2 separate regions of the Homo sapiens genome follow, and region 2 is linked to region 1. The links come from fine-mapping of genetic effects on gene expression. Tissue or cell type: sun-exposed skin. Region 1 holds a variant in brackets; the other region holds the start of a gene. All regions are shown on one strand. Distances are from middle to middle.

Region 1 (2,500 bases):
ACACTGAGGCTTTCGGGGTGGAGTGACTTGCCCAAGGCCATGCAATTAACTTGGCGACAGAGAGGGCGCCTAGGCCAGGTCTCCTGGGACACCTTTCTTGATGCCACAGTGCTCTCAGAGAGTGACACGGAGTTAGATACTGATCGCTTGCTGCTGTTTGTTAGTAACGCAGGGGACCCCATAGGTCATCTAAGGGATGAAGTGTCCCTAATAGCAGATCATTTTAAATCATCTATCAGAAAGAAACAAAGACCTCTCCCATTCCCCACAGTTTTGTTTTGGCTTTGGAATATTACCTTTAAAATAATTACTAGATTTGATTTCAGTCAGATTTACCTTCCTGCTTTTATTTTATAGGTGGTAGTGTTAAAATGTCATTTCAGTTTTGCCTGGCGGATCATAGGGAAGCCCAGAAGGTTTTGCCTGGGGCTGGGGCCTCTGCTTGGAGCTGCATGTAGAGAAGCCTGCAGTGTAAGCCTCTTAGGGTGGTTTCGTGCGGTGTAATGGAGATTACGAGAGGCTAAAACCACTTGTCCCAGAACTATCTCCTGATAGCAGGAGCGAGGGGCAGGGTGGGATTAAACATCTGCCACAGTCTACATACTGAATGATAAATACCCACATGATGGTCTTCTTTAAAAAGCTGTCCACAGAAACAAGTTAAACTATATACTTTTTATAGAGACACGGTCTCTCTGTGTTGCCCAGGCTAGTCTCAAACTCCTGGCCTCAAGCAGTCCTCCCTCCTTGGCCTCCCAAAGTGCTGGGATTACAGGCGTGAGCCACCATGCGCAGCCTAAACCATATTTTTTATTATAAAGGTAATAAATGCTCAATGTAGACAACTGAAAACACGACTGCATTTCTCAACTTTACAGGTTCTATTTTCAACGCCTCTATCTCATAAGAGCAAAAAGGATTATTTTCCTATGAGCATATCCAGCCTGGTGGAAAACTTGAATTAGTATTTCCATTTCATGGCAGGGGAAAGGAGCTGTCTTGCTTCTTTTTTAGCAGCCAGAGGGATGGGGTTCTAATGACCACACTCTTGGGTGTTGGGTAATATTCAGACAGAGGCTTCCGATTCCAGTAATCTAAATCCTTCCAAGCCAATTCAAATCTGTGGCGAGTAAATAAAATTTTTTAAAAATAAAAACATAATAAAGCAACTCTATGACTTCAACAGGAATGGGGACGTCTCAGAATTGTAAGAATTTGAGACGTTTTTCTGGTTTCCTATGTTTTAAATGGGCAGGTTTCCAGCAATTCAGCAACATTAGGCCAGGCCAACAGTTCTCCGACAGCAAGAAATACTTTCATAGACATCCTGGCATGTTTGCTTTCCCTCTTCATGTCTGCTCTGATGCCATAAAACTGTAAAATCAGCTCAGTAAGCTTCTGAGTACTGTACCTGCAGTGGCAACAG[A/G]GAATGGACAGGCGTCAGGGGCTACAGCATTCACAGGGGCCACACAGCCTCACAAGACCACCACCTCTTCTCCTGCCTGGCCGTCCCTTTGCTAACTACCCTATACCACTAAACCACCCTATACTCTATACCACTCATTTAAACACAGCTGCAGGCTCAGAACCCAGACCCGTCTTTAAACTGACTCATTTTCGGAACCGGGCCCTAACCATCAGTGTTAATTAATATCTACTTTTCCTTTCTACTCATATTCAATTTACATCATTTTCTCTGGAATAGTTATTTTCTTGCATTATCCCAAATTATTAATACTGTTATCAACAAAGCAGTGGGAGAATAACCACCCCTGTAAGGCAGGCTGCAGAATGTAAAAACATTTTATTACTACCCCCACAAAACCTGAAGTAAAGCCACCAACCTGGTTAATATTCGGTTTCTTCTGTCATCCAGATCTGCTGCGTTCCTCAACTGAACATAGCTAAAATGATCCTACAGTGAAATTTATAAACAAAAGCCCCCGCAACCCAATTAGTAAAGATGAAATCTCTGAAACAGAAGATAAAACGATTTTAAACACACAAAGCCGAGCATGCCGGGCATTTCTCAATACCGCCAGCGTCTAGATCCAAAATCAAAGTGCTAAACAATATACATTCCTCTACCTCCTCCCCTAAGCCCCTCCCTTGTGAGTGCGAGAGACCCCACCACCCGGAACCCGGATTGGGGTGTGCTGCTCCGGGTTCTAACACATCTGCTACTGAGCACGTGCCACTGTCCATCGGACCTTGACTCATGTTGCACCTCTGTCTCTGAACGTGATCCTTCTGGGTGCGCGCGGGGTCCAGGTGAGGCGTTTTGGGTGCGTTTTTATAGCAAGGAGGCCTTTGGGCTTTAAAATCCTCACTTTATTTACATCTCTTATTGCCCAAACCGGATATCCGATCGGACTGTGCTTAATGATAAGGTTCCAATCTGCTTGTCTTCTATCCAAAAGTATAGCTGTTGCATGCCAGTAATTTCAAAGCTCTGGGCTGGGGAGGAGGAAGGATGGAAAGGAATTGATTAGCAGGGGCC
Region 2 (2,500 bases), 130 kb after region 1:
GAACACCTGTCTGTTGGGTGGATAGGTTGTGGAGGGGAAATTATGGGTGACTTTTTTCCTTCAAATATTTTTGTGCTTTCTAAGTTTCCACATTGAATAAATTCTTTTGAAAGAGAAACACACTTCATGTGTGGCACCGCCATACCCAGCCGCTCTCCACCACTGGAGTTTCTCTTTCACCTCTTCTCAGCTACCTCCCAGGTAGAAGCCTTGGTCCCAGTGTCCTGTGCCCAGGCAGGGTCGGAGTTGGGGGCCAGCGTGGGGGAAGGGTGGGGCTCTCGCCCTCTCCCCAGTTAGAGTCCTGATCCTGCAGGGGAGGGGCAGCTCCCTAAGCAAAGTGGCCGCTGGAGTTGGGTGCTTGCCTGACCCCACCGATCCGATCCGCACCCCTGGCCCCGCTTTCCCCAACTCACCCCCTGAAGCGCCGCCCACCATTCAATTCCCCTTGCCTCGAAGGTACTTAGGAAGTGCGCGAACTCACACACACACACACACACACACACACACACACACACAGAGTCGCACTGTCTCCTCCCCTCCCTAACCTGGGCCACCGCCCCCAAGAGCCCACGTACAAACTTCTCCAAACTCGCAGCGGTGACTGGAGGGGGTGGTGACGTCCCCCTAATGAAAATGCGAGCCCTCGCCCCACAACACACACACGTGTGGCGCCCCACCCCCTGGGCAACTGTAAACCTGGCCGCGGCTGGCCGCCCTGGGGCTTGGGGGCGGGTATCCAACCCCAGCCTCCCACCTCGAGGCAAGTGACAGGAACAACGAGCGGCCGGCGAGCGGGGGCGGCGCGGGGGAGTTGCCAAGTGTCGGAGCGGCGCCCCGGGCCCCCCGAGCGCCCAGCCATCCCGGGGCGAGCCTGGGCTGCGTTACCTTGCAGGTTCTGCACTCGGATGTCGCTAATCTGCCCGATGAGCTCCTCGCGTTGGAACCAGTCCCACTCGTGTGCAGCCATGAAGCGCGGGCGGGAGAGCCCGGGCCAGCGCGGCGCGGGCGGCGGGCGCGGAGAGCCTGGCTGGCGGGCGCGCGAGCGGCACGCACCCGGCGAGGGCGCCGCGGAGCTGGAGTCGCGGCGGGCGCGGGCGGGGCGCGGGCGCGGGCGGGGCGGGGCGGGGCGGGGAGGGGCGGGCGGCGCGGTCGGGGCCGCCCCCGCCGCGGGCTGGCGCGAGCGAGCGCGGGGCGGCGGGTGCGGGGCGGCGGGCTCGCTCTCACTCCCCCGTGCGGGGGCGGGGGCCCTGAGGAGCGAGGGGCGAGGGGCGAGGGGCGGGGCGGGGCGGGGCAGGGGCGGGAGGCTGGGTCAGGCCAGCTTGTGTTTTTTTTCTTTCCGGGGTGTTTGTAGGTTGGATTGTTTGGTTACAAACCGGCTGTGATGAGGCGCGGGTCCCGGCCCCCAGATTGTGATGTCTCAGGGGGCGGTGGGCCGGGTGACGCAACTGGGGGTGGGCCCGTGGGTCCCAGTACCTGGTCCAGGAGGCAGCGTCTCCCTCCCGTCCGGGATAAGACACCCCCTCCGCGGGTCCCCTGTCCACTCTGGAGAGGCAGCCCCCACTTGGAGGGACCAGGACCCGAGCCCTGCCCATCCCCGAATCCTGGGAGCCCTGCGTGGGGAGTGTCGAGGGCCTGGGTCGGGGGGCAAACTAGTGTGGAGGTAAAGTTGTGGGAGTCTCCAAAGTGCGGGGGGGCTGTGAAAGAAGGGCCTTCTTCGTTGGTTTAGATACTAGGAGCCTTTTCCGGTCCAGTAATGTGACTCCAGCTTCTAGGAAGGAACAAGAAGCAGGCCAACTCCTAGGAGCTGGGGTACGCTGTGGGGTCTCTGGCCACTGAGTCTCCAAGTGACCCTCTGTGGGGTCACTGGAAATTAGTGAAAATGCCAGGACAGAACTTCCTGTGGAGACTACTGAAAATGCCAGGACAGGCCTTCCGGTCCCCTCCCTCCCCACCTCCACTGTTGAACTCTAGAGAATTCCAGGATCTTATCCTGTTTGGTGCCCACCATGTGGTTTACACTCCTTAAAAGTGAGACCCTACAGTTACCGAATTTGCCCAAGGTTGAGGAATGACTTAGGAGCAGGAAGTCCCAGCCCCCTGCTCCCAGCTCAGTGCTTGGGCCCTTTCTGTGACAACTAAGGCCACAAAGAAAATGGCTTTAAATATTCAGTGTTCCAAGAGGGGGAAAAAAATGGACAGGGCTCACTGGGCATTTAAACACATGGGCCTGTGTGCATCGCTGCTCTGTTCACAGCAATGAATCCCGGAAACCCGGCTGCTCACTAATTACCCAGTAACTATGGAGGTCCCCCGAAGGACAGACCTGTGCCCTTGAGGCAGGGCCCTGAAGGAGGGTGAGTCTACCCTCCAGTCATCCATTGGGGCAGGGGCTATCGTGTGGCCCTTAAACAAGGAAAGGAGATTTCTAAAGTGGACTCCAGAAAGGAGAAAGTCAATTTGGGTTAAGGAACTGTGAATGCGGGTGGAGGGCAGCAGAGGT

Which allele goes with the higher level. Alleles are on the strand shown, and positions count from the first base shown. SD is a standard deviation of normalised expression in the study named.
As copies of G replace A in region 1, the expression in sun-exposed skin of the gene that starts at base 1,083 in region 2 goes up (small effect, 0.23 SD a copy in GTEx).

What was found. PIP is the estimated chance that this variant, and not a neighbour inherited with it, causes the effect.
Region 2: CLMN starts here. The variant in region 1 is fine-mapped to the expression of CLMN in sun-exposed skin (GTEx, PIP above 0.99). The same link has a PIP of 0.9 or more in breast, esophagus mucosa, gastroesophageal junction, spinal cord and thyroid.

Annotation. Positions count from the first base shown.
Region 1 is chr14:95,192,005-95,194,504 of GRCh38, forward strand. CLMN (calmin) reads right to left here. Exons shown (of 13, transcript NM_024734.4): 12 at 1,845-1,915. Among named protein-coding and RNA genes, the nearest start is that of DICER1-AS1, 36 kb to the left of the region's middle. The variant A/G (reference allele first, on the strand shown) is at 1,427.
Region 2 is chr14:95,318,826-95,321,325 of GRCh38, forward strand. CLMN (calmin) reads right to left here and starts at 1,083. Exons shown (of 13, transcript NM_024734.4): 1 at 886-1,083. The coding sequence starts at 967. RefSeq lists enhancers at 1-73, 94-173 and a silencer at 804-1,063.